Homo sapiens: one gene and its partners. The protein of the gene in region 3 purifies or fractionates together with the protein of the main gene of each other region. This does not show direct contact. Each region holds a gene or a part of one and is shown on either strand. Other genes may lie near its edges. The genes, in order: COG5, EXOC5, NPTN, EARS2, ANAPC2, RUFY2 and BTAF1.

Evidence for each region.
Region 1: the proteins of NPTN (region 3) and COG5 purify together in Homo sapiens (co-immunoprecipitation; 2 studies listed by BioGRID and IntAct, with this or other methods). This does not show direct contact.
Region 2: the proteins of NPTN (region 3) and EXOC5 purify together in Homo sapiens (co-immunoprecipitation; 2 studies listed by BioGRID and IntAct, with this or other methods). This does not show direct contact.
Region 4: the proteins of NPTN (region 3) and EARS2 purify together in Homo sapiens (co-immunoprecipitation; 2 studies listed by BioGRID and IntAct, with this or other methods). This does not show direct contact.
Region 5: the proteins of NPTN (region 3) and ANAPC2 purify together in Homo sapiens (co-immunoprecipitation; 2 studies listed by BioGRID and IntAct, with this or other methods). This does not show direct contact.
Region 6: the proteins of NPTN (region 3) and RUFY2 purify together in Homo sapiens (co-immunoprecipitation; 2 studies listed by BioGRID and IntAct, with this or other methods). This does not show direct contact.
Region 7: the proteins of NPTN (region 3) and BTAF1 purify together in Homo sapiens (co-immunoprecipitation; 2 studies listed by BioGRID and IntAct, with this or other methods). This does not show direct contact.

The regions. Positions count from the first base shown.
Region 1 is NC_000007.14:107,235,421-107,238,920, forward strand, and holds part of COG5 (conserved oligomeric Golgi complex subunit 5), read right to left. Parts: intron 1,268-3,500; coding exon 1,030-1,267; intron 1-1,029.
Region 2 is NC_000014.9:57,258,906-57,262,405, forward strand, and holds part of EXOC5 (exocyst complex component 5), read right to left. Parts: intron 1-3,500. UniProt on the Homo sapiens protein: Component of the exocyst complex involved in the docking of exocytic vesicles with fusion sites on the plasma membrane.
Region 3 is NC_000015.10:73,567,390-73,570,889, forward strand, and holds part of NPTN (neuroplastin isoform b precursor), read right to left. Parts: intron 3,035-3,500; coding exon 2,761-3,034; intron 2,418-2,760; coding exon of another isoform or gene 2,401-2,417; exon of another isoform or gene 2,325-2,400; intron 2,155-2,324; exon of another isoform or gene 1-2,154. UniProt on the Homo sapiens protein: Probable homophilic and heterophilic cell adhesion molecule involved in long term potentiation at hippocampal excitatory synapses through activation of p38MAPK. May also regulate neurite outgrowth by activating the FGFR1 signaling pathway.
Region 4 is NC_000016.10:23,536,851-23,540,350, forward strand, and holds part of EARS2 (nondiscriminating glutamyl-tRNA synthetase EARS2, mitochondrial), read right to left. Parts: intron 1,326-3,500; exon of another isoform or gene 1,233-1,325; intron 705-1,232; exon of another isoform or gene 534-704; intron 383-533; exon of another isoform or gene 154-382; intron 1-153. UniProt on the Homo sapiens protein: Non-discriminating glutamyl-tRNA synthetase that catalyzes aminoacylation of both mitochondrial tRNA(Glu) and tRNA(Gln) and participates in RNA aminoacylation for mitochondrial protein translation.
Region 5 is NC_000009.12:137,174,284-137,178,560, forward strand, and holds the end of ANAPC2 (anaphase-promoting complex subunit 2), read right to left. Parts: intron 3,834-4,277; coding exon of another isoform or gene 3,785-3,833; intron 3,499-3,784; exon of another isoform or gene 1,555-3,498; coding exon 1,425-1,554; exon of another isoform or gene 1,233-1,424; coding exon of another isoform or gene 1,190-1,232; coding exon 954-1,189; exon of another isoform or gene 872-953; coding exon 659-871; 3' UTR 501-658; downstream 1-500. UniProt on the Homo sapiens protein: Together with the RING-H2 protein ANAPC11, constitutes the catalytic component of the anaphase promoting complex/cyclosome (APC/C), a cell cycle-regulated E3 ubiquitin ligase that controls progression through mitosis and the G1 phase of the cell cycle.
Region 6 is NC_000010.11:68,404,478-68,408,758, forward strand, and holds the start of RUFY2 (RUN and FYVE domain-containing protein 2), read right to left. Parts: upstream 2,801-4,281; 5' UTR 2,713-2,800; coding exon 2,709-2,712; exon of another isoform or gene 2,386-2,708; coding exon of another isoform or gene 2,277-2,385; exon of another isoform or gene 1,348-2,276; coding exon of another isoform or gene 1,344-1,347; intron 989-1,343; exon of another isoform or gene 968-988; intron 368-967; coding exon 194-367; intron 1-193.
Region 7 is NC_000010.11:91,930,270-91,933,769, reverse strand, and holds part of BTAF1 (TATA-binding protein-associated factor 172), read right to left. Parts: intron 2,389-3,500; exon of another isoform or gene 2,250-2,388; intron 1-2,249. UniProt on the Homo sapiens protein: Regulates transcription in association with TATA binding protein (TBP). Removes TBP from the TATA box in an ATP-dependent manner.

The DNA of each region.
Region 1 (3,500 bases), on a different chromosome or scaffold from region 3:
CCAGCCAGGTGTGGTGGCTCACGCCTGTAATCCCAACACTTTGGGAGGCCAAGGCGGGTGGATCACAAGGTCAGGAGTTTGAGACCAGCTTGGCCAATACGGTTAAACCCTGTCTGTACTAAAAATACAAAAATTATCCAGGCGTGGTGGCGCGTGCCTGTAGTTCCAGCTACTCGGGAAGCTGAGGCAGAGGAATCACTTGAACCCAGGAGGTGGAGGTTGCAGTGAGCTGAGATTGTGCCACTGCACTCCAACCTGGGCGACAGAGCAAGACTCTGTCTCAAAAAGAAAAAGATTTTACCCTTGGTATGCTATACAAAAATAACAATCATCTTTGTTTCTGAATCTTTTAATGAAAGCATGTTTGGGGTTTTTCTTCATTGCCTACTGAAAGGCTTTAAAAAATCTGTCTAAAGGACAAAGAAAACGCTTTCTATAAGAGCTGATAATGTTTTGCTATTTTAATGTCATTCTATCTCTCACACACATCAGATAGCCTGAAATGATTTCAAGGCTAGCCACAGAGAAGAACTGTACTCTACCTGATAGAGAGAGAACAAATAATCAGACTCTATGTCTACCTGGCCCACTGTGCATTTAAAGGAATGGGAACACTGCCTCGGAATGGTGACATGGCAACAAGCGGTCTCTTTTCACTGTTTGAAATATGATTTCATTGCCTACATTATTGGTCAGCAAGGTTTGACCTATTGGGACAGTAAAATAGTGAGAAAATCCCATATGAAATAAAAATGGGAAGTGCTGCTTTCCTGTGGAATGAGCTATTTCACCTTAACCTTGAAATACCAAAGAGAGGGATAATTATTTTGTTAAATACAAAGAAAAATATATCTGGTATAAAAGTATCTTTAAACTCTCCCTTTTTTTTTTTAACTATTTATGCTTAAGTGGGCTTACTTTTCTTTGTGCTGCAACTCTTTAAAAACACCGATGAAAACACATTCTTTCATTTAATAGATGATATTGAGGCCAAAACATTTTTTCTTTTGTAGTAATTCATCAATGTACCTGTGCAAAATCAGCAGCAAGTCGCATTTTCCCACCTTCACCAAGAGGTCTTATGAGACTGGCATGGCGGATAAAAAGTTCAACAGCTCTTTGGGCAATAGCCTCAGTGTTGTCAAAGACAAAATCCAAGCATTCAAAGTGTTTAAAATAGTCACTCATAACTCTGGCAATGAAACCTTGTAGCTCCTTCATGTACAGAGAACAAGGAACATCAGGTTTTCCTGAGCTGGATAATGACCTGTAAAAGAAAAAGCAGCCCTTTTCAGCACCGCTGCACTAAATCACACTCTTTGATTTTGTACCCCTCTCCCCACCAATGCTGCTATTTCAATCCTTTGTAATGTTTTCCCTTAATGGTATAAAAGACATTAATTACTTTTTGATAAGCGTTAGCAGAAAACAATGTTTAAAAATTACATTTCAAAAAGTGGTTTAGATGCCAGGAGGATTACTGAAGGAATTTTAGAATCCATTTACCTAAAGATTATTAAGAATGAAATAGACAACCATCTGTCTTGGATGAATCATACAAGTGCTACTCTCTGGCCTCTCAAGGTCCCTCCCAGCCTCTCAATTCTCCATCCACTCACATGTTTTGCCTGCTAACTGAATGCATCAATAATGGATCCTGAAATAGCATTTTATGCTTTGCAATGACAGAAAATGCTGCTTTCCCTATACAAATTCTTGGCAAAGATCTCTCTGCTCTTGTGCTATTTAATCAGATCAGTCCAACAGAATTCTGACTGTGGAAATGGTTATGTAACAGTACACATGGCATGCAGTTTTTTCCTCTAGATGATGAGGTTTGGAAAGGCTTTAATTTGGATCAACAAATGATACCAGCTGATGCTCCATGAAATACTATTTATAATTTATAAATGTTTATAATTGCTCTTTAAAGAATATATTAAAAGAATGTGAAATATTTATAGGAAAGAGATATACCAAAACTAGCTAACACCTGATATTTTCTAATAAATGAGATCACTGGCTACATCATGCTGAATCTTTTTCAAAAAGCAAGTTAAGTGTTTCCATATTCTGAGAATGACGTAGAGAAATTGGTGATGGTCTATAGAAGAACAACAGATATGACTAAAATGCTTAGAGCAAGAGAATGAGTTGAACTTAATTATCTTCAAATACAGCAGTGGTTACTATAAATAGGATGCTAACCAGAGGTCCGTCACTTTCAGAAGCAGATAGAGATAGAAGAAGTAGGCCTATGTTCCAGCAGGAAGGGATTTCATACAGGTATAAGACTGTGCCAACAACAGCAAGGCTGCTGAAGGGTGTATGGTGCAACATTTTTGTTTGCAGTATCATCACATGATGGAGTGGCGCTTGGGTACAGGGGAGCCTTAGTAAATGACGGCCATCTTCATGTGGGGTTTGGTTTTCCCAGATTCAGACAACTGCATAGCCTAGCTTTACTCTAGGTTTGTCACTCCACAAGGCCAGGCTGCAAAAACAAACAAATAAAAGAAGCCTCCCTATCCGAAAATGGTGCCAATCTATTTCATTTTTTTAATGTTTATTTTTGATGAATTATAATAATATATAATAAGGGGATACACAGTAATGTTATATGTATACAGTGTGGAATGACTGAATCAAGGTAATCATACTCATCACCTTAAATACTTATCATTTATTCCTCCTAACTGCAACTTTGTACCCTTTGACCAACATCTCTCTATTCCCTCCACCCCATAGCTGCTAACTGCCATTCTACTCTCTGTTTCTATGTATTCGGTTGTTTTAGACAACAGATATGTGAGGTCATGTGGTATTTGTCTTTTGGTGTCTGGCTTACTTCACTTAGCATAATGTTCTGTAGGTTCATCTATTTGTTGCAATTAACAGAATTCCTGTCTTTCTGAAGGCTGGATGGTATTCCATTGTGTATGTATACCACATTTTCTTTATCCATTTATCAATCTAAATGTTGGTGGACATTTAGATTGATTCCATAACTTGGCCATTGTAAGTAATGCTGCAATGAACATGGAAGTGCGTATATCTTTTGACATACTGATTTCAAGTTCTTAGGTTATGTATCCAGAAGTGGGACTGCTGGATCATGTGGTAGTTCTGTTTTTAGTTTTTTGAGAAACGTCCTTACAGTTTTCCATAATGGCTGCCTAATTTACATTCCAACCACAGTATACAAGGGTTCCCTTTTCTGTACATCGTCTTTCACACTCGGTATCTTTCATCTTTTTGATAAGTCAATTCTGACAGGTGTGAGGTGCAATCTCATTGTGGTTTTAATTTGCATTCCCCTGATGATTAGTGATGTTGAATGTTTTTTCACATATCTACTGGCCATTTGTATGTCTTCTTTTGAGAAATGTCTGTTCAGGTCCTTTGCCTATGTTTAAATCAGGTTGTTTTCTTGTTATTGATTTGAGTTCCTTATATATTTTGGACGTTAATCCCCGTATCAGATGTATGGCTTGTAAGTA
Region 2 (3,500 bases), on a different chromosome or scaffold from region 3:
TAAAGTAAGTCTCAGATCGTTTCAGAGAGATATTTCTGTATCTTGTTAAACCAACTAACCCATCGGTTCAAAAGTACTGCCTATCATGTATTTTCCTTAAATTTATTATGGATACCACTGTCTAACAAATCATTAAAACACTACCTCCTTTTAGTGAGAAACTTCCCTATATAATTCCTACTACACTATCAAATTCACACACACTTTTCTTTTTTTTTTTTTGAGATACAGTCTCACTCTGTCACCCAGTCTGCAATGCAGTGGTACAATCTCGGCTCCGCCTCCTGGGTTCAAGCAAGTCTCATGTCTCAGCCTCCTGAGTAGCTGGTATTACAAGTGTGCGCCATCACATCCGGCTAATTTTTATATTTTTAGTAGAGATGGGGTTTTGCCATGTTGGCCAGGCTAGTCTCTAACTGCTGGCCTCAAGTGATCTGCCCGCCTCAGTCTCTGGAAATGCTCGGATTACAGGTGTGAGTCACCACATGCAGCCAAGTTCACACTCTTATATCTACCCTTTAGGGTTCTTATCTTGTACCACCTACCCAAATTTCTCTGTACCTCAAAACAAACAGCCACACTTCCGTCAGACTATTCCAGTCTTCTTTTCAAGCCCATGCTACTCCTGCTTCCTAACCTGTGGCCAGGTAACTCACCCCACCAAGTATGGCCTTTCTCCTCCAACAATTCAAACACTGCTATACCATTATTCAAAGCCTGGCTCTATTCCCGTTTCTTCTTTGAAGGGTTCCTTCCTTACATGGTCTCCATTAATTTCTCCACTCTTAAACCCCTATGAAGCTTAAAAATTCAAATCCCAACACAGAACATTACTAATTGTCATTTTGTCATTTATTGATTTAGAATCATTTTCATAAGTTTCACTCTTTTCTCCATACTTAAATTGAAAGCAAGGGGATGCTGTGTCATACATTTCTCTTGCTTTCCAGCTGTAGTCAACAGAACAATGCCGAGCATACCAAAACACTAGCTAGTTGGGGCCATGGCTGAAACCCCTGCAGAGGGTCTTGAAAGTCATGCTCTTGATCCATACATCCAAAACCAAAAAGGCAGGACCACCACCCCACAACCCAGAAATAAAGAACAGGCATTACATGGTACTATCAATCAAAGATTCTAACAGAAACCAAATATGAGCCTAATACAATTCTGGCACTACAAAGAACTAAAAGAATTTTATAATATTCGGCCTCTACTTTCTAACCCCATTTTCTTTGATTTTTCAGTGAGATTCTTTACGTGTTTTCTGTATATTAATAAATAAGTTATATTTATTGAATACTGAGTTTTTAAAAAAGCACCACAAAATATTTTGTCTCAGGCTAGCAAAATGGATTTCAAAGGTAGTATGAAAAGGTAGAAAAATAAAGCTCATTAAGACACTAATATAACTAAAGCAAACTTTGAAAAAGTATTTTGAAAACTACTTGCACAAACACTACAAAATAAATAATTTTACTTTTTAAAATTAGTCAATGTTAACATTCAATCTTGAAGCCCTTTAAACTATGAAATTAGCCAATTAATCATGTTATCAAAATTGTTTTGAAGACTATTTAAACGATGGTAGTTTAGAATCTTACAAAATATTTTAGATTCTCTTAAGCAAAATATTTTTCCAGGATAGAATATATCTCATTTCGAACAGTAAAGTTATATATATTATGTCTATGTCCAAAAGGGAAAGGTAACAAATGTTACAATTCCTGTTACACTAGTCTCAGCAGAATCATATAATTAGATTTAAAATTCGTAATGCAAGAATGTTCTTTAAATATCATCACAGCCCAGCTCTTTCATCTCATTTTTATAAATAAAGAAACTGAGGAAATGAAATTTAAGTCTTATCAAGGTACTAAACCAGGATTCTAACCCAGATATTTTTCCCACTCTATTATAGTGCCTTTAACATTTATAGACTGTGAAATTACTTTAAATATTTAATAAAATCTGCCATTAGCATTTCAAATCAAATTAAGTGTATTGCCAAATACACACGTTAAATATTCTTACAGGCATTTAATAGACACCTTGGAAATGAAATTAAACAAGTGAAAGAATCATTTGCTTCTTTCGTTTATTATAACTTGAATAAGCAAAGATATGTAAATAACTATATTTTCTCATTTTCAAATTTCGGCTTCAAGGAAGTAACATCAGAAAAGTTTGCTAAGTTTTAAAAATATATATATACATAAACTATTGACAATCAAACTTTTAAATTATTTATCACTCAACTAGAACTTTCGTTTAATTTGTAGGTTATGTTTATTTGCACGGTGTTACATGAAATTGCAATCCACTTTTAAGAGAACAAGGCAATCAATCACTCTTTCAAATCTCTCTCACACATGTGGGCACACACACACCTCAACTATCTAATTTCCTGGGAACACCAGGGACTCAGTATTTTAGATTAATTACACACATGTGCAGTCTATAATACTGTCCTCAATTTAATGACTTGCTTATTCCAAAAGTTCACTTCCAAGTTGCTTGGACTGGAGAACTCCAAAGCATAAAATACTTAAATGGAACTCTATTACTCTTAAGCATCAACCTCTACCTCTACCACTGTCTCCACTAAGACCAGCAGAAGGCTATTAGATCTTGGTGCAGGTAAGAAATTGATCGGCCTCTGTTACAGTTATCTATTGCTGCCTAACAACCACTCAAATAGTTAGTGGCCTAAAATAACAATAATCATACTGTTCACAAATCTGATTGGAGGAGGGCTCAGCAGGGAAACCTGGTCTCTGCTCCACATGAAATAAGCTGGGGCTGCTCAACTTGGCTAGAAGATAGTCTTCCAAGATGGCAAGTTGGTGTTTACTGTTAGCTGGGAGTTCAGCCAGAGCCAAGGGCAAAGGGCCTTGGTTCTTTCAAAGGGCTGCATGGGCTTTCTCTTGGCATGGCTGCTAGAGTCCAAGAGGTTACCTAACCTTGCAAATCACTACATAGCATCACTTCTATAGTCATAGGCCTGTACAGATTCAAGAAGTGAACACAGAACCTACTTCCTATGGGAGGGGCATAAACATCACAATGTAGGATGGCAGATCTTGTGACCATCCTGAAAAATACAACCTTCCACAGCCCCTTTTTGTAATCCTCTCCTACTATAATCTCCTACTTCTTGGATCATTTACTCTGAGTCAACTGAGACTGAGAAGGCTGAAGTGTTCCCTCCCTGATAGATCTCTAATCTAGTTCTCATCTCAATCCACTTAAATTGAAAGTGGCCAACACCTAATTTTTTAAAATGGATACTACTCTCTTAATAGTATGCTTCTAAGCAATTTAAATTTCTCAACTCAATTTAGTCATCAAAAAAACCTTCTGAAGTAGATACCATTATTTCCCCCATTTTACAGATGAGAAAACTGAGGTACAAAGAGGTTGGGTAACTTGCCAAGATCACACAACTAGTAAGAGGCAGAGCTGAGAGATGTCTTCCACCTCCTGGCTAAATTACCACC
Region 3 (3,500 bases):
GGTAAACACTTATGACCTCTTAACACTCCCAAGTTTGTGTCAAATATAATGTACCTCTTCGTTTATTCCAAAAGGAGTGTACGTATATATCTATATGAAAATTTGGGGAGAAGCACATGGGAAGGAAGCAGACAGGTAAGTTTGTCCTTCCTATGGAGTGCACAGGGGTTGAGGGGAACTGGCTAAAGAAGGAAAAGGCAGAGAAGAAGGAAACTCACCAAAGAACATTCAACTTTTTCTTTTGTTTAATGATTACTTCCAGGAAAGGAGAAGAAAAGCGGGCAGGGGTGGAAGCAGGATGGAGTTTGAGAGAAAGACAGAAAGAGACAGAGGAGAAAAACAGAATGGAAATACTGGAGCAAGGGCAGGGTGTGAAGATGGAGAGTGGAGCCTGGCCCACACTGGCTGTCAGGAAGGGAAGGAGAGAAGGCAAACATTGCCATCATTCCAGCATCTCAGATTTTTCACCCCAATGCAACAACAACGAAGTAAACGCTGCTTTCATTACAATACTCTCCCAAGAGACTAGAGCAAGGAGGTTTTACTTTGCACTTACCCTGCCGTCATCTCTTTTAAGGGTAGGATTCATTCACTGTCTATAATAACTTAGTTTAAAAGAGGTACTTTCCCTCTAGGAAGCTGTTCAGATTTGCTGGCCACAGATGTCTCCTATAACAAACTGGTCCCCCATTTGATTTCAGTAACCAAGAAAACTCTTACAAAAAAAGAGCTGCTTCCCTGGGCAGGTGTCTGCACTTATCCAACAGAACAATCCTAACCATTTCTCAAATCTAACCTACCACATGCACTGTGATAGCAACCTCATAAGCGCGGTGACTTCTTAGGGCAAAGACTAGACCTCTGCTGGGAACACGCTAGGCTGCTGCATCACTCTCACCAGTGGCAGCCAGCCTTGCCTTAAAATTTAAAAATCAGGTTCTGAAGTCCATCTCTGCCTTCTCTTACCTGACTTTTTAGCTTCTCAACCTTTCCAAAAGGCAGGCTGAGGAAGGTGGTATTGGCAAAGCAAAAGCATTCTGGGGGGATAAAAAGGCCCTTTTCAGGAATGAGGCATAACTGATCCCACAGAGCCAAAGCTGAAAACACACGAAAGACAGGCAACTCTTTCCCTTTACTCCCAGGTCTAAATAAAGGTGCACTCTTGCCTTGGGAGTCCTAATATGTAGCAGGAAAGAAATACCTGGAGAGAAAAAGCATTAGGAGTACATGAAATCCCAAAGAAAGCAGGTTCACTTCATAAAGTAGGAAAGTAAAACTCATGGGGACACTCCCAGGTTGCAGGAAACTAGAGATTCATTTGCAGAGGCCGTCTGCTCCCAGCCAACGTCCTTCCCACGCCTCTGCCCAGCTCACTGCTGAGTGCACATCTGGAGGGAGTCACCAGATATTGTCAGTGTCATCAACAAACCTCCTCACCAGCCACTCACTCTACTTACTGCAGGCAGAGAGATTTATAACTGCTGAGAAGAAAGGAAAAGATGGGGAAGGGGCTGTTGCTCTCAAACATGTCCTCCCAGAGAGTCTAAAGCCACTGGCATGCCTCTGGGGCCACATTCTTTCTGAGGGAGCACCAGATGTCACTTTGTATTCTCCACTGGACAGCCAGCTCTGTGGGGCAGGATACAGCACCACAGGTGCACAAACACAGGCCCCAGAACAGCTGGACTACAGCTGGCAACCCCACCATCACCCCGGGTAGGCTACCACTGAGCCCAGGGGCACACCCATCTGTCTAGTCTAGCCAGGGACAGACTAGTGGTGGTAACAGTCGGCCAATTAATTTCTGTACGCCGGTCATGTTATAGGGTGGGGATGGGGAGCCAGCTGGGAACCTGAAGTACTGCAGATACAAGTCTCCATCAGCAGCTTCCCCCTTCACAGGAAAAATCGATCACCAAAAATTTCCCAAGGCTTTTCTGACTCTAGGCATATCCAATAACCTAAGATTTCAGCTCTTGCTCTTTCCAGTGCTCAGTGGTGTGCTGTGGTTCTGCTGCTACCATCTCCTCCCTTCTCTGACCCTAGGCCAGCTTGAGGGCACAGCCTCGGGGCATGGACTCCATTTGTTCCGCCTTTGCTATCTCTGTCTTACACTAGATGGGTGGATACATCAGACTCTCCTTTGTCTGTGAGACACAGATGGAAAGCCACCCAGCAGAGAGCGCTGGAAACCTATCAAAGGGACCAACCAAGGAACCAAAAGCTGGCTTGTTCCAATGGCTTTTCTGAGAACAGTCTGACTGGGCTGGGGCAGTTACCTACAGGGGCTACACCAGGCAACCATGTGACAACCAGTTAGATACCTTAAATCTGCCTGAAAGGCCAGGTGGCCTGCCATCTTGGGGTGGCTTCTAGGCTTGACTTGGATTCTCCTCAAGCTCAATCTGCCTGATGATCTGTATTGAAGGAGGACAGAGCTGAACAAAGAGACTGACAGCTGCCCATTCACCACATGGGGCCTGAAAGGCAGATGGGACTAGGGTTTGGAAAACACCCAAACAGAGGGAGAGAGCTAAGGACAGCTCTAGATGGCTAATGCAAAAAAAATAAAAATAAAATAAAAATAAAAAATAAAAATAAAAAACTCTTACGGGTAGGGGGTTAGGAACTGGTATAAGAATTTTCCTTCTTTCCTTTAGGGATTGAATCCCAACATCCCTATAGTCCTCTTTGGGTACTTGGAAACCACCCGAAGGAACCAACCCCAGCAGTACAGCTATTTTGTAGGGATGCTCTTACCGTCAGGAACCTCATCTGGCCTCTTCCTCTTCTCATACACAACAATGATCACCACAAGGATGATAATTTCAGCCAGAATTCCCAAGAAAGGCCAGAGTGGGGCCAGGTGGCTCCGCACCCTGAGGACAGTGACAACAGAGGCGGAGCCAATGGCGTTGGTGGCATTACATTCATACTCGCCAGGGTCTTCCGTGATCTGCAGGTTCACAATGTTCAACTCAGTGTAATTTTCCTTGTTGATGATGAAGAAGCGGCCAGAGGTATTGACAATGTCCTGCAAAAAAGTGAGAATACACAAAGGTGAGAGTGAGTAACTGAGCTAATGTTCAAGAGAGGGTGACACTGCTCTCCGTTCTTTTTAGGCACCAGCCAGAATGAGGAAGCAGTGTCTAGGAACATTTCATTAATGATTTCCCTTCAGTATCAACAACAACAAATCAACTTCTGACAGAGCCAGGCAAGCCTCCCTTACCATCGGTCCTCCAGACTTCCCCGACTTCCACGAAGTGAGTGCAGGTCCTACTGCCTGGAGACTCAGAAAAGTCCAACAACCTAGTAAATGCTGCCTCCAACACCAGGTAAGAAACCACAGCAGAAAGAGGACGGCAGAAGGAGGGGTACAACCCCTACAGTCAGGCATGCCTCGGGGACCTCAGGCCTCTCTGATGACCTCAGAGTCAGCACACTGACTTCACACTTGGTGAGTTCTGAGGAAGTCTCCTTAAACTTCCTCCACAAAC
Region 4 (3,500 bases), on a different chromosome or scaffold from region 3:
TTTTATATTTTTAGTAGAAATGGGGTTTCACCACGTTGGTCAGGCTGGTCTCGAACTCCTGATCTCGTGATCTACCCGCCTCGGCCTCCCATAGTGCTGGGATTACAGGTGTGAGCCACCGTGCCCGGCCAAAAAAGAAATTTTTACAAATGAGTCAGTTGCACATGAGTGAACAGGAGGGTGTTCAGCTGCAGAAGCAGGGCAGCATTATGTCTGAATCAAAGGAACTTGTTTCTTCAAGCTCTTCTGGCAGGAATTCTGACAGTGAGTTTGACAAAAAGTTAAAGAAGAAAAAGTAAGTTGCTCCAGAAAAACTTGTAAAGGAACAAAAGACTGGCAAAACTTTGGGAGCTCTGTCATCTTCCAAACAGAGCAGCGGCAGTAAACATAATAACATGTTTATTTTCTTTTTTAAATTTCATATAGAGATGGGGTTTCACCATGTTGCCCAGGCTGGTCTCGAACTCCTAGTCTCAAGTGATCCACCCTCCTCAGCCTCCCAAAGTGCTGTGATTAGATTACAGGCCACTGTACTCAGCTGATAACATGTTTCAGATTGGGAAAATGAGGTACCTTAGTGTTTGGGATGTTAAAGGGGAAGTGCTAATTGATGGTATTAGAGATTATTGGATGGATCTCAAAGGTTAAATAAAACCAGGAAGAAAAGGTATTTCTTTAAATCCACAGCAATGGGGCCAGCTGAAGAAACATTCATTCATTCATTCATTTACTGAGACAGGGGACAAGGTCTCACTCTCGTTGATCAGGCTGGAATGCAGTGGTGCAATCATGGCTCACTGCAGTCTTGACTTCCTGGGCTCATGTGATTCTCTCATCTCAGCCTCCCGAGCAGCTAGGACTACAGGTATGCACGACTATACCCAGCTAATTTTTTGTATTTTTAGTAGAGACAGGGTTTCTTTCTTTTCTTTTCTTTTTCTTTCTTTTTTTTTTTTTTTGAGTCAGGGTCTCACTCTGTCACCCAGGCTGGAGTACAGTAGAGTGATCACAGCTCACTGCAGCCTAGACATTCCCAAGGGTAAAGTGATTCTCCCACCTCAGCCTCCCAAGTAGCTGGGACTACAGGCGTGCACCACCATGCCTGGCTAATTTTTGTATTTTTTTTAGTAGAAATGGGGGCTCACCATGTTGCGAAGGCTGGGCTCTAGCAATCTGCCCACCTTGGCCTCCCAAAGTGCTGGGATTACAGGCATGAGCCACCGCACCTAGCTGGAACAGATATTCTAATCGATACATTGATGATGCAGTAAGAAAACTGTAAAGTCTGAGCCATACAAAACCTACACTATCCTAGTTGGGTTTTTTTGTTTTTTGTTTTGAGATGGAGTCTCGCTCTGTCACCCAGGCTGGAGTGCAGCGGCGTGATCTTGGCTCACTGTAGCCTCTGCCTCCCAGGCTCCCAAGTAGCTGGGATTACAGGTGCACGCCACCATGCCCAGCTAATTTCAGCAGAGATGGGGTTTCACCACGTTGGCCAAGCTGGTCTCGAATTCCTGACCTCAGGTGATCTGCCTACCTCAGCCTCCCAAAGTGCTGGGATTACAGGCGTGAGCCACCGTGCCTGGCTTCTAGTTGTATTAATCTGTCTTTTTACATTGGCTTCTGTTTTCTAAATGTTGTTCTCCAAGCTGTCATATGTTTGGATTACAGAACAACTTGTAAGATGAATACTTGTTTTAAATGTGCATTATTGAATATGTTCTGTCCAAGTGCGGTGGCTCACTCCTGTAATCCCAGCATTTCGGGAGGACAAGGCAGGAGAACTGCTTGAGCCCAGGAGTTCAAAACCAACCTGGGTAACGAGACCTTGTCTCTACTAGAAATTTAAGAAAAAAAAAGAATTAGCCGGGCATGGTGGGTACATGTGTGTAGTTCCACCCACTTGGGAGACTGAAGCAGGATTGCTTGAGCCCAGGAAGTCAAGGCTGTGGTGAGTCATGATTGCATCGCTCCAGCCTGGGTGACACAGCAAGACCCTGTCTGGAAAAAAAAGTCCTAAGGGAAGCTAACTGTCAGCTTTATTAAGAAGGATTGCTTTGTACCTACCACCTAATGTAAAATAAAACCAAGTAATACATTCTCAACAGTTATGGCCCCCCTCCTTTTTTTTTTTTTTTTTTTTTTGAGACAGGGTCTCATTCTGTCTCCCAGGCTGGAGTGCAGTGGCACAATCTCAGCTCACTGCAACCTCCATCTCCCTAGTTCAGCTGATTCTCCTGCCTCAGCCTCCTAAGTAGCTGAGATTATGGGCACACACCACCAAGCCCAGCTAATTTTTGTACTTTAATATAGATAGGGTTTCACCACGTTGCCCAGGCTGCAGTTGTGTCCTTTTTTTGCTCATAAGAGCTAGTACTGTTTAAGGCCCAAAGTAATAGTTTTTACAGATCTTTTAGTTTCAACTAAGCTTTTACAATAGAAAGGACTTGTATTGCATTGAGTTTATAAACTTTTGGTTTGTGAAATCCATACTTGATCTGTTCTTTTCCAACCAAATGTCTAGGCTTGACTTTTCCACCCCAATGACATTTCACTTTATTAAATATTAGCAGATATACTTTGATAACCAACACAGCTTGTATGAAAACTGAGCAAGTGTCCATCATGACCCATAGGGTTCTGGGTAGTTGTTACCTTACTGTTTAGTCCACAAAAAATAACGACTTAGATAAGCTGTCTGATTTGCTTTCGCTTATTAAACACGTTCACCATGAGATGATGTGTGTAACATCAGATACCGTTAAATTAGACTAGGATTTAATACAAATCCTGAAAGCTTAAAATAAATAAATAAATAAATGGCTGCAAGGATTCCACAACAGGGCATGACTATAATTTAACAAAAAAAAAAAATCTGTTGGCCAGGCATGGTGGCTCATGCCTATAATCCCAGCACTTTGGGAAGCTGAGGTGGGAAGATCGCTTGAGTTTCATACCAGCCTGGGCAAAATAGGGGAATTCCATCTCTACAAAAATTTAAAAACTAGCTGTGTGCCAGCCGGGCATGATGGCTCACACCTATAATCCCAGCACTTTGGGAGGCTGAGGTGGGTGGATCTCCTATGCTCAGGAGTTTGAGACCAGCCTAGGCAACACGGAGAAACCCCGTCTCTACCAAAAAATACAAAAAAAATTTGCCGGGCATGGCGGCACACACCTGTGGTTCCAGCTGTTTGGGAGGCTGAGATGAGAGGACTGCTTGAGCCCAGGAGGCAGAAGTTGCCTTGAGCCAATATCACACCACTGCACTCCAATCTGGGTGACAGAGTGAGACCCCATCTCAAAACAAAACAAAACATAACACTCTGTGTGTGGTGGTACATGGCTGTGGTCACAGCTACTTGAGAGGCTGAGGATGTAGGATTGCTTGAACCCAGGAGATTCAAGGCTGCAATGAGCTGTGATCATGCTACTGCACTCCAGCCTGGGTCACAGAATGAGATGAGAAAAAAAATATTCTGTCAAGAGACAAATACATT
Region 5 (4,277 bases), on a different chromosome or scaffold from region 3:
TGCCCAGTCCCTCTGGCCACCAGGGCACAGCCTTCGGCAGAGCCTCACTGCCAGAGACGAGGCGTGTTGGCCTAGAGGTCATTCGCCAGCCTCAGCAATTCCAACCGAACCCGCACAACGTCCCAACCTCGCCCGAGACCTCCTGGCCGAGCGTGTGGAGGTGGGCACAGGCTGAGCAGAGGGTGACCCCAGGGCTCCTTCTAAAGGCCAGAGGCGCAGGAATGGAGCTGGAGGTCTGGCGGGTAGCAAGCACTAAGCCCTAGGACGTGGCTGCCTGAGCCGTGGCCCGGGCGTGACGTGGACCTTCACGTGCCGCTCCCTGAGCACCCTGGGTCGGGGGCGGCCCGGGATTCTCTCAGGAGGCTACATTCCCAGTGCAGATGTGTAGGCCTAGGTGGCCCCTCACCTGCTGCTGAGGAGCAGGCCCTGCCAGGCTGAGAGAGAGGCCCAGGCTAGAGGAGGATCCTGGGGGGCCCCACAAAGCCACCAGGACAGAAAAGGATGATCTGACTTGCTTTAATCTGCACACTGCGGGGGTGGGGGTGGGCATGCTCCTCAGCAGTGCATTCTGGGACACGGGCGGGCGGGGGCTGGCACGGGAGGACGAGAGCACCTGCAGGGCAGCGCCTGGCGGGCGGGCGGGCGGGCGGGCGATGTGTCAGCTGCAGTTCTTGGGCAGGCGGTAGACGCCGGCCGAGTAGACGAGCTGCTGGTCCCGCACCTTCTTCTGCAGGTAGCCCTGCAGCTCCTGCAGGTCAATCTCGGCCAGTGCAGGCCCAGTCACCACAAACATGCGGAGCATGTTGTAGATACGATCCAGTGAGAGGCTCTCCAGGTTGGTCAGCATGGCCTGGATGTACGTCCAGAAGAGCTGCGGACACAGGCCAGCCCCCGTCAGGCACCTGCAGGCCTCGCCCCCGCCCCCTGGCCCCCCGTGGGGCCTGCACGCGCACCAGCAGCTCCTCCTCCTTCTGGTCGGCCTGGGAGGCCATGCCGGAGTCGCTCTCGTCGTCACTGTCAATGAGCACCATGTTGTCCCGGTCCTGAGGCCGCTCCTCCTCAATGACAGAGAAGGTGCCGGGGGGCTCCTCACGCAGCACACCCTGCTGCAGCCACACGGACATCCGCCGCCGCAGCAGCGCCACGGGCATCTTCACCGCCTTGCTCAGTTCCTCCAGGGTCCAGCTGGCTGCGTGCAGAGTCACCGGGACGCTGGGCAGCCTGGGCACGGGCTGCACCTCCCCTGCCTCCCGTCAGCCGAGAGGTCGGGGGGCTCCCGGGCCACCCTGCCTTGCCCGTGGGAAAGGGAAGGGTGCCGCCTGCTGGCGCAGCTGCCCCAAACCACACCCTCACTGGGGAACAGCCCCTCACCCACAGCTGGGCCGTGTGGCCGGGGCAGGCCAGCTAGGGGCTGGTGGGCTCACCTTGGTCCTGAAAATACAGCAAGATCACCGCCTGTACTGGGGTGACCGCCACAGACAGCGTGCGGTCGGCCAGCTCCACGTCCATGGTCACCAGGCCCAGGGTGTGCTTCCAACTGAGGGTCCGCATGGCCTAAGGAGGGCCAGGGTCAGCACGGGCAGCTCGGCTGCAGGGCGCTCAGGCCCGTGGGCTCTGCCACCTGGTACCAGTGAGAAAGGGGCTCCCAGAGCCACCTGCCCCACCCCACCCTGGCAGGCAGGTGAGCAGCGAGAGCACAGGACTGGGTGGGGTCCCCACCTGCTCAGCCACCATGGAAGGGCAATGGGGCCAGCATCATAAGGTGTGTCCCGAAAAGGCTACAGGGGCCTCCTGACCCCCAGTGCTTGGAAATGTGGCCATATTTGCAAACAGGGTTGATGCAGATGTAACTGAGGTGCATCCTAACCCAACTGACTGGGGTCCTTCTAAGAAAAGGAAAGATAGGAAGACACAGGCAGGCGGGGAGGGGGCCACACGAAGACAGAGACCACCTGGAGCAACGCGGCCACAAGCCAAGAAACACCAAGGGCTGTGGCAAACACCAGAAGCTGGGGGGCAACGGAGGTCTCTAAGAGGGTTCAGAGGGAACGGGGCTGCCAGTACTTTCATCTTGGACTTCCAGCCTCCAAAACTAAGACAATCTATTTCTGTTTTTTAAGCCACCCAGTTTGTGACACTTTGTTACAGCAGCCACAGTAAACGAACAGATTTTGGTACCAGGAAGGGCCAGGAGGGGTGCTGCCAAAACCTAACACCAAGAACTGTGGCAGCAGCTTTGGAAGTGGGTGATGGGGAGAGGCTGGAAGAACTGGTGAGGCCTGCACGACTGCTGGTAGAAAGGCATGAAGACAAGCCTGGAAATGGCTGGAAGAGGAGAGCTGCCGCCGTCTTGGAGAATGCACACAGCATCACAGACTGGATGTCGGCAGCAATGCCGACCCAACAGGTGCTTCCAGTGAGGTCTCAGATGGAAATGACCGTGCTACTGGGAACCGGAGGAGGCAGCAGAGAGCTTGGCTGGCTGCTGCTCTGCTGTTGGGTGCGAAGTGGGACCTGCAGCTGATGAGCCTGGACATCAAGCTGAGATTTCCAAGCAGTGTGGAAGGTGCCACCTGGCTTCTCCTTGCTACTTATAGCAGAATGCAAGAGGGAAACAATCAGTGAGGCAGGGACCATTAAGCAAAAAGGCACCAGCCCTTGGGGATCTGAAAAATACTCTATCCAGGCAGCTCTGAGACGTGGCCAAGGGTGTGGCTGGACCAGGGTTTGCTAGACATGAGGTGTGACCTGTGTATCCAACTAACCATCTCAGCAGCAGACAGGGACAGGTGGGGCCTCCGGGAAAGGGCTGCGGACCCGCCTGTCTGAAGGCTTCGGCACTGGTGAGCTGCATAAGCCAACAAGGTGTGAGAATTTTACACCCGCAGAAGTGCTGCCAGGCTGGAGTGAAAGGAAGGCAGGCTCCAAGAGCAGAGCCGCCGAGGCCAAGGCTGACGGAGCAGGGGGCCAAAGAGGATTCGCAGGCCTGGAAGTCAAGTGGAATTTCGGCTGCTGGGTTTGGACTCGCTGTCCTTTTTCCTCCCAGTTTTCCCTTTTGGGGTGGGAATGTGTATGCTTGTCTTACGGCTGAACTTTTGAAACAGATCATCTGTTGGCTGATTTCACGGCGTCCCAGCTGGAGGAATGGCGCGCACTCCAGCCTCACCTGTACCTTGTTTAGATCTATTTACGTAGAGGAATGGCGCACACTCCAGCCTCACCTGGACCTCGTTAAGATGCATTTACAGGCTGAGATGTGTGTGGAACTTTGTGTGGATGGTAGTTAGATGAGATTTTGGACTTGGAGTTGATGCTGAAATGGTGAAGACTTTTGGGGACACTGGGGCTGTCACTTGCACGTGGGAGGGGCCCACCATGGGGCAAATTGTCATGCACTGAATTGTGCCCCTCGAAAAATGACACATGAACCCCTAACTCCCGGTGCCTCTGATGAGATCTTATTTGGAAATACGGTCATTAAAGATATAATTAAGATGACGTCACCCTGGAATAGAGAGAGTGTTCTTCTAAGAGGGAGATAGGAACAGAGACACGGGGGAACATCACGGGCGACGCGGCAGAGACCAGAGCGAGGCACCCACAGGCCCCGGAGCTCCTGGAGCCCCCAGAAGCTGGAAGAGGGGAGGAAGCAGCCTCCCCTAGAGCCTTCGGAGGGCCCTGCTGACCCTGACTTTAGACTTCTGACTTCTGTAAAATGATATGTTTCTTTTAAGCCCGCTGGTTTGTGGTACTTTGTTCTGGTAGCACTGGGGCACTGACACACCTGCTCTGTGGGCCAAGGGCTCCTGAGTCCTTCCAGGATCCGGCAGCTTCTAATGGAAACAAACCCCTCTTTATGGACAGAAAATGGAAGTGGAGTCAGTGGCTTGCTAGGTCCTAGTTCTGGCTCCAAGGCCATGACCTCCACAAACGCCGCCACTGGTCAGCCTGCCGCAGGACACATGCAAGGGCTCAGGGGTGACGCTGTGGGCTGCATGGCCAGCCACGTGTCCAACAAGGTCGCTCGGCCAGGAGCTCTGCTGGTGGGACCTCTCAGCACAGCCCCGGGGCCTCCCTGAGCCACTCCTGTGTCCCACTGAAGTTAAGACAAAGGGCACTAGAGTGTGGCTGTCCCAGCACATCAGGCCTGAGCAACAGGAAGTGGCTGAGTCATGCCTGGGACCCAAGGCAGGACCCTGGAGGGAGGCCATTGGGGCCTTGCCTGGAAGCAACGCTGGAGAGCCTGAGGCAGCCAGAGGGGCAGGGGGAAAGGGACC
Region 6 (4,281 bases), on a different chromosome or scaffold from region 3:
GCATTTTCTGAAGACCATTTATTATTCCATTATTAGAAAACATAGTCATAAGATATTTTCTCCCAAAATCAATCCACTCAATATTTTTTAGTGCACAGTAACGTAATTATGGCCTCAAAAAATAACCCATTCTCAAGGGCACTTGAAAAACGGAAATTCTAAAATGAATTAATTTTTTAAAATCTCATGATACCTTTAAGACCGTGTTTCAGGCAATGTTCCATAACAACAAAGAATTGCTGCAAGGGGGGATAGTCAGAATCCAAAGTGCGGCCAAAGCTCAGAGCAGATTCAATGAGTCCTTTGATACTCAGTTTAGCCATGTTTAACAAGTTTGCTCTCTCTACAGCTGTGGGGTCTTTTGTAGCTGAAAACACAAGAAAGGAATCCAACATCATTTGTAAGACATGACAATGAAAAATATACAAACCATTCCCTTCCCCTATAAAAACCAACAGTAGTTTGCTGTTCCTTGGTTGACAAATTCTCCCCAGCTAAACCACACCCTTGATTAACTTCTCTTTACATCTCTCACATATACTGTAAAAAATTTCCGGCCAGGCGCGGTGGCTCACGCCTGTAATCCCAGCACTTTGGGAGGCCAAGGCGGGTGGATCATGAGGTCAAGAGATTGAGACCATCCTGGCCAACATGGTGAAACCCCGTCTCTACTAAAAATACAAAAATTAGCTGGGCATGGTGGTGCGCGGCTGTAGTCCCAGCTACTCGGGAGGCTGAAGCAGGAGAGTCACTTGAACCCAGGAGGCGGAGATTGCAGTGAGCTGAGATAGCGCCACTGCACTCCAATCTGGTGACAGAGCGAATCTCCGTCTCACAAAAAAAAAAAAAAGAAAAAGAAAGAAAGAAAGAAAAAAGAAAATTTCCATGACCACTCCAGCCAAAGTTAATGAATTATTCTCAAGATCCTGCAAATCTGCCATTCTCCTGTATTTAACTTTCCTGGTACCTCTTCATAGAGAATGAGTTTTTTAAAATGATCTTCTATGGAGATAAATTTGGGGTGAGAGACAACAGGTTTAAGGGCCTCATGCAAAAGGTAGATAGCAGGTACGGTCTTAGGATGAATTCCAAGGCAAAAATGTTCAGAATAAACTGGCAATAAAATAAAAGGTAGTTAAAATTCTAGGATTCCAGTGTCATCCACAACAAACATGACAGGTAAAATACACTGACAAGGGGACACAGAAGAAGCCGTCCAATTCTTTCGTCTACCCTCTTTCTGTCTGGCTTCTTCATTCTGACTGTAGTTCTGTATTGCATGACTGTTTTATTTTCAAAGAGAAAATAAAAGCAGAGACCAGTTTTACATTAATGTTCCTCACCCATCCACACAGTTGAGGATGCCCACAGCGCCAGTCTGAATACCAAGTTAATAGATGCAAATTCTAAAAGGCCTGATTTTTAATTGATATTTTTAAGACACAGTATCATCAAGTAAGATATTTTCAATTCACAAAAATATTGTCCTCCTTCCCGCAAATTTTATTCTCAGTTTACTTAGAAATTCAGACGCTTCCCCATCATCTCATCACTGTTGTGACTGGTGGGAATACCTTCAACAAACACAGATGACAAAACTAAGGTGTGGAAAAACGAAGCACTTAGTATAACATTTCATAATCTCTGACAAATTTACAAGTAATCAATGTGCCCGTTTTTCCTTCACTGAACAACAACAACAACAAAAAACCCAGAGTCTCCAATGATCTAGTATTCCAGCTCCGATTTCTAGATAGCTAGGCATGAAGCCTGACACTGAATCCTAAGCAACCTAAAATGCAAACAGCCACAACTGCTATGGCCAAACTGCCTGGTGGAAAAATGTCCACACACGAATTCCTTCAAATCTGCATCGTGGTCTGACTCCCACTATTTTTCGGGAGTGAAACCACTTCATGTTTCATAATCCGTGGCAACTCTCATTTTTAACACAGCCCATCATAATTCCTAACGTGCGATGCGACAACCACACAAAGGGTGTTTTGCAGCTGCTGGGAGGCAGATCGGTGCTGGGCACCGGCAGTTCCCACGCCGAGGGGCGTTCACACCGCGGCCACGCCCCGGCTGCGCTACAGGACTTCTCCGGCCCGTACGCGACCCCCAAACCCGGCCGCAGGCGCGCAAGGAGTACCAGGGCCAGTGCCCGCACCTTGCCGGGGCCTAGAGCCCCTTCCCTGCCTCTCTTCCTGCCCCCTCCCCCCAGCAAGGCTGCCCAGAGGCCTGGGGGCCCCCCAGGACCATCGCGGCGGGCTCACCCAGGCTCCTGCGCGTCAGCATTCCCCGTCTCCCGCCCTCGGCGTCAGGCACCCAGGCCAAAACCTGAGATGCGTCTTCCCTCCGCCACCCCCAAACCTGAAAAGTCATCGCCCCTCCCCGCCTGCTCCCCGACCCGGGAGTGACACCCTGCCTGGCCCTGTCCTCGCTCCTGGACGCCGTGGCACCTCGAGCCCTCGGCCACTATGCCTCAGAACCCGGGCGGGAACGGGCCGGAACAAGGGAGGGGGCGCGTTGCCATGACGACCCCGGGAGCCCCCGAGTCCCAGGCAGTCCCCGCCCATCCTGGGTTCGGGCCCCAGTTCCGACTGGCGGCCTCGGCGTCTCCCCCAGCTCCCAGTCCACCCCGCCTGGCCGCGGCCCTCAGCCCGGGACTGAGGGCCTAGCGTTCGGTTTCGGCCCGCTCGCCTTACCCATGGCGGCGGCGGCTGCGCGGTCTCGGGCGGAGGCTCCCTCGGCCTGTCCAGCAGCTCCTTCCAGGCGCTCGGCGGCCACCACCGCATCTGCAGCCAGGCCCGCTGCAGCCCACAGCGCCCCCGGCGGCGGGAGGGCGCCCGGGCGGCCCCAGGGGGAGCGGCGCCCCGGGCGGGGCGGGGACCCGCGGACCCTGCGGCGGGCGGGAGAGAAGCCCGCCGTCTCTAAGCCTCCTCGCATCCGCTGGGACCGCGAGGAGAAGGAAAGGAACGTGAAGGAGACCACATGTGTGAGGAGCCAGAGTGCTGGGCCCTCGGTCCCGTGTCCCGGGGGCTTCGCTGGAGCGCGAAGGCCGGATTTCAAGGGGCGGCCGGCCACACGCAAACGTTGCTTCCACCGGGCTGGTGGGGCCTGATCTAACACGCCTGACTACTGCCCATTCACCTTCACAAACACAAAGGGGACCAAAAGAATTTAGAAAATCTGAAGCAATTAACAGTAGGCAGAAACCTAATAAAACTAGTTAGTCCCAAATTACGACTTTTTTTTGTTTTTTGGGTTGTTTTTTTTTTTTTTTTTTTGAGATGGAGTCTCGCTCTGTCACCAGGCTGGAGTGCAGTGGCGTGATCTTGGCTCACTGCAAACTCTGCCTCCCGGGTTCAAGGGATTCTCCTGCCTCAGCCTCCTGAGTAGCTGGGATGACAGGCGCGCGCCACCCCGCCCGGCTAATTTTTGTATTTTTAGTAAAGACGGGGTTTCACCATGTTGGCCAGGGTGGTCTCGATCTCTTCACCTGGTGATCCGCCCATCTCGACCTCCCAAAGTGCTAGGATAACGCCTGAGCCACACAGCCCGCCCTAAAACAATTTGGTAAAGCTCATTACAAAAAGCTAAAGTGAAAAAAGAGAGAAAACAATTCAAAAATATTTCATTATGTGCCACAGCAATATCCACACAAGCACTAAAATTCAGACCTCGGCTGGGTATGGTGGCTCATGCCTGTAATCCCAGCACTTTGAGAGGCTGAGCTGGATAGATCACGAGGTCAGGAGTTCGAGACCAGCCTGACCAACATGGTGAAACTCCGTCTCTACTAAAAATACAAAATTTAGGCAGACGTAGTGGCATGTTCCTGTAGTCCCAGCTACTCGGGAGGCCAAGGCGGGCGGATCACCCGGTCAGAAGTTCGAGACCAGTCTGGCTAACATGGTGAAACCTCATATCTACTAAAAATACAAAAATTAGCCGGGCGTGGTGGCGCGTGCCTGTAATCCCAAGATTCCGTCTCAAAAAAAAAAAAAAAAAAGTCAGACTTCATCCCTGGATCCATCTTGGTTCACATTTCCCAGGATTATGAGCCCTAGTCATCGTAAGGGCCAGTAGTGACTCAAGTGGAATTAGATAGGCATATCCTATTAGCTAGAAGAGATTTTTTATTTTTTTCAGACAGGGTCTCACTCTGTCACTCATGCTGGAGTGCAGTGGCGCGATCTCAGCTCACTGCAACCTCTGCCTCCCAGGCTCAAGTGATCCTCCCACCTCAGCCTCCCTAGTAGCTGGGACCACAGGCGC
Region 7 (3,500 bases), on a different chromosome or scaffold from region 3:
GAACAAGTGTTTAAAATATTATTTCCTCATCATACACAATTTAATCCATATAAATCAAGGTTCCATCTTTCTACACCAAAATACCACACCTGAAGGTCACCAATGAACTCTTAGGCTCCAAATCCAATAGTTTTTTACAAGGTCAATTTTTCTTGACTCTTCTTTGACAGCTGCGACCAGCAAGCACCCCATTCTTACAATACTTTCCTTCCTAAGTTGCACATTATATTACCCTGTTCTCCAAACTCTTCTTTCCTTAGTTCTCCTATTCTTAATACTCTTAATATGAATATCGGGAGAATACTCATATTCAATCCTTGACTGCTCAACTCTCATCAGTTTCTCCCTGAGGAAACTGTATACTGTTATTTGTTTAAATTATATCCAGAACAAATATTCCCCAAATCCAGGCCATCTGAGAGTGCCAGTTTCACACTCCCAACTGCCTTGTCATCCTGTTGCCAGATTAACTTCCTAAAACGCCCCCGAATAAATCACTACCTTACTTTAAAACTTTCAATGGCTCACACTTACCTACCAGAAAGTAATCCAAAACAAAAAGTATCTCCCAAATGTGGGTATTTTTGGTTTCCACAATTTTACCTATACTGTTTCCTCCACTCAGAATGTCTCTCACACCCCTTCAAGCTAGGGTTACAGTGGCTCACCCCTCCTCAAGGGGGTGGTTTCCTGGCCAGTTTCTGCCAGATCCCCAGAATGGTCACTGGTTGGGGTTGCAGTGGGTATGTACTCTGCCTCACTGCAACAGCAGGCAGCTGTGCAGATATAATGGCCCCATGTGTGAGACTGGGAACTGTTGGTGGGAGGCACAGCTGAGAATATGGGTATATCACCTGGAATTTAACCAGATACACCACTAGAGGTGATCTTCGGGTGTGCCTGAGCTTGCTTCTCTAACAAGAGAATAAAATGTGCTACAGCAAACAAATAAAGTATTTTTCTCTTTGTTCAACTGTTCAGCTAGCTCCCATCCAACAGGATTCAGCTGAAGTTCTTCACCTTCTTGAAACCATTTCAAACTACTATGCAACAGAGATTACTTCCTTTTCTGAAATCCACATGAATTCTCATCTTGAACAGCTACTTAAGTATTTATTATATTTTTTTGTGGCATCTCTCACATTAATTTGTCACATGAGGTCTAATTTTCCTCATTAGGCTTCATCTCCTTCAATCATTCTTTTTGTCTCGCACAACACTTTGCACAGTATTCAAATATTTGTTATGTAGTTGACATTTACTGTAACTAAAACTATACTTAAGGAAAAGTTCAAGTTTCTTGGGGACAAGTTTAAGAACCAACTTTAAGGAAAGAAAAAATATTTTATATTACCTTTTTTTTTCCTGCTTCCTTTGAGAAACATCCTTAATCTGTGACAGCAGTTTTACATAAAAAATCAGTTGGTAATGTAATGTTTCAGTAACTGAAAAGATCAGCACAGCAGTACTTCAGCCTTCTGAATGAGGCAGTTACGCTTGTCCCAAATAGCAAGCTGAAAAATGCCATGCAATAGGCACTGTATTCCTTCAATAATTTCCATCCTTCTTAAACTTTTCCTTTGGTCCTCTGCTACCCAGCTTCACTTAGAACTCCTGCCCAAAGACCTTAGACTCCTCTCTAACCTAATTGCTGATACTGTCCCACAGACACACAGTTCCTCTTGATTCTCCTTTTTGCAGATCCTTTTATCCCAATGCTATGTCAGGTCACCTCTGCTCTCCCACCAGCCAAATGCCCTGAGGGTAGCAGATCAGCTCATTCTCTCATCCATTCCAAGCCTGTTTATCCTTACTTCTTCCACTTTGGATGGTAACCAAAATTGCCTCCCTGAATAGAGGAATGGAGACACAAGAATGCTTCTTTGATTCTCTTGATTTAAAGCCACTTTCGTAGTTCTCCATTCCTCTCTTCAGGACAGCAGATTGGACACCACATAAAAGGAAGAACAAAGAGATGAGCAGACAAAGATCTGACAAGAGGGCAGTCTGACCTGTTATCTCAGGATAGCCAGCTATGAGGCAAGCAGGGTAAGCATCAGGGCCAGGCCACGGTGGAAAAGGCTGGTACAGTGAACTTGTGGGGAAGAGGAAAAGAACGTGAGACAGAGTCAGTATTATGTTGGAGGGTAGACAGGGCCCTTGGTGAGGGAGAGGTCTGAAGGAAGCTAGATGGTCAGAAGAGAAGGGAAAGTTAAAAGGAGGGCTGACTGAGGGAACACAGTACTTACTCCCATACTACTTTTGGCTAAAACTTCTGTTGCACACAGCTAGCAGGAAAAAGTAACATTCTTCATTCTCTGAAGGATAGACAGACAGATGGAGGAGACACAGGTAACAGATGTCAAGTTGCATGGAAGGTACCAAAGACTATAGAAGATAAGTAAAACATAAGAAAATTATATTTTGTAATATCCACTGGTTATAAATTTATTGAGAATAAGAAATCTGGCCCATTTTCAATCTGGATGTCAATTCCGAGAATTAGCTAAACAAGATATGATTCATGTAACCTGTGATTTCAGGCAACTGTTCTAAAGACTGCCTAGAAAAAGGAAAGAGTACATAGTAGTAGAGGTTATGCTAGCAGTTGCAATCTAACCCCTCTCCTCTCCAGATGTTTGCATTATGTTAATTCATAACAGTAAAGCCATAAAAATAAACAGAAAGAAATGTCATGCATTTTAAACAATAAAACATGTCCTAGATTACTACGTCATAGTTAATAAACAAATACATACTGTATTTCCACTCTAAAACATCTCGGGAGGGGAGGGGCAAAAAGCCTCACTGATATTTTCAAAATATATTTAACCTCTCTGATAAATTAGGAAAGGTCAACTGACAGAATACCTCAAAAAGACAGCTTTGTGGCCTTAACTAAAAAAGCATGACCAGTCAAGAGTAGCCATTTAGTTATACATTTTTTACACGTGGCAAAAGTACAGTAAAATTTTAAATATAGATGATTTGAATGTTTACTTTTCTGTGTTACTCAGGAAGTAAGGAAAGATAATGACCATTACTTAGTATAGTGTACAGTGTGTACTTAATACGTGGAACTTAGTACAGTGCACATATTATCATTAAGGTCAAAAGAAACAACTTCCAACAAATTCTCTAGTGTTTTTAAACATATACTTTCTAGGTCATGTTGTGGGTAATTTGAAACTATGTTAATGTTATGTTGTTTTAAACATAAAGATATCACACAGAACACTAAGAATCAATATGAAGGTGTGAAACCATACCAAAGCCAGGTGTAAGGGCAGGTGCTTGCTAGATAAGTTACCCCACTCTACCCTGGACCATAAACTCCATGAGAATGGAGAGTACAGTTTTTTTCTCTGCTATACCTCTAGCACCTATAACATAGAAAGCACTCAGTAAATATTGGTTAAATGAAGAATGGTGAAAATGTACAACCAAGCTATGCTATTTCCTTCAAGACATTTTTTTCTACCCTCCATCCCTGATCGAAC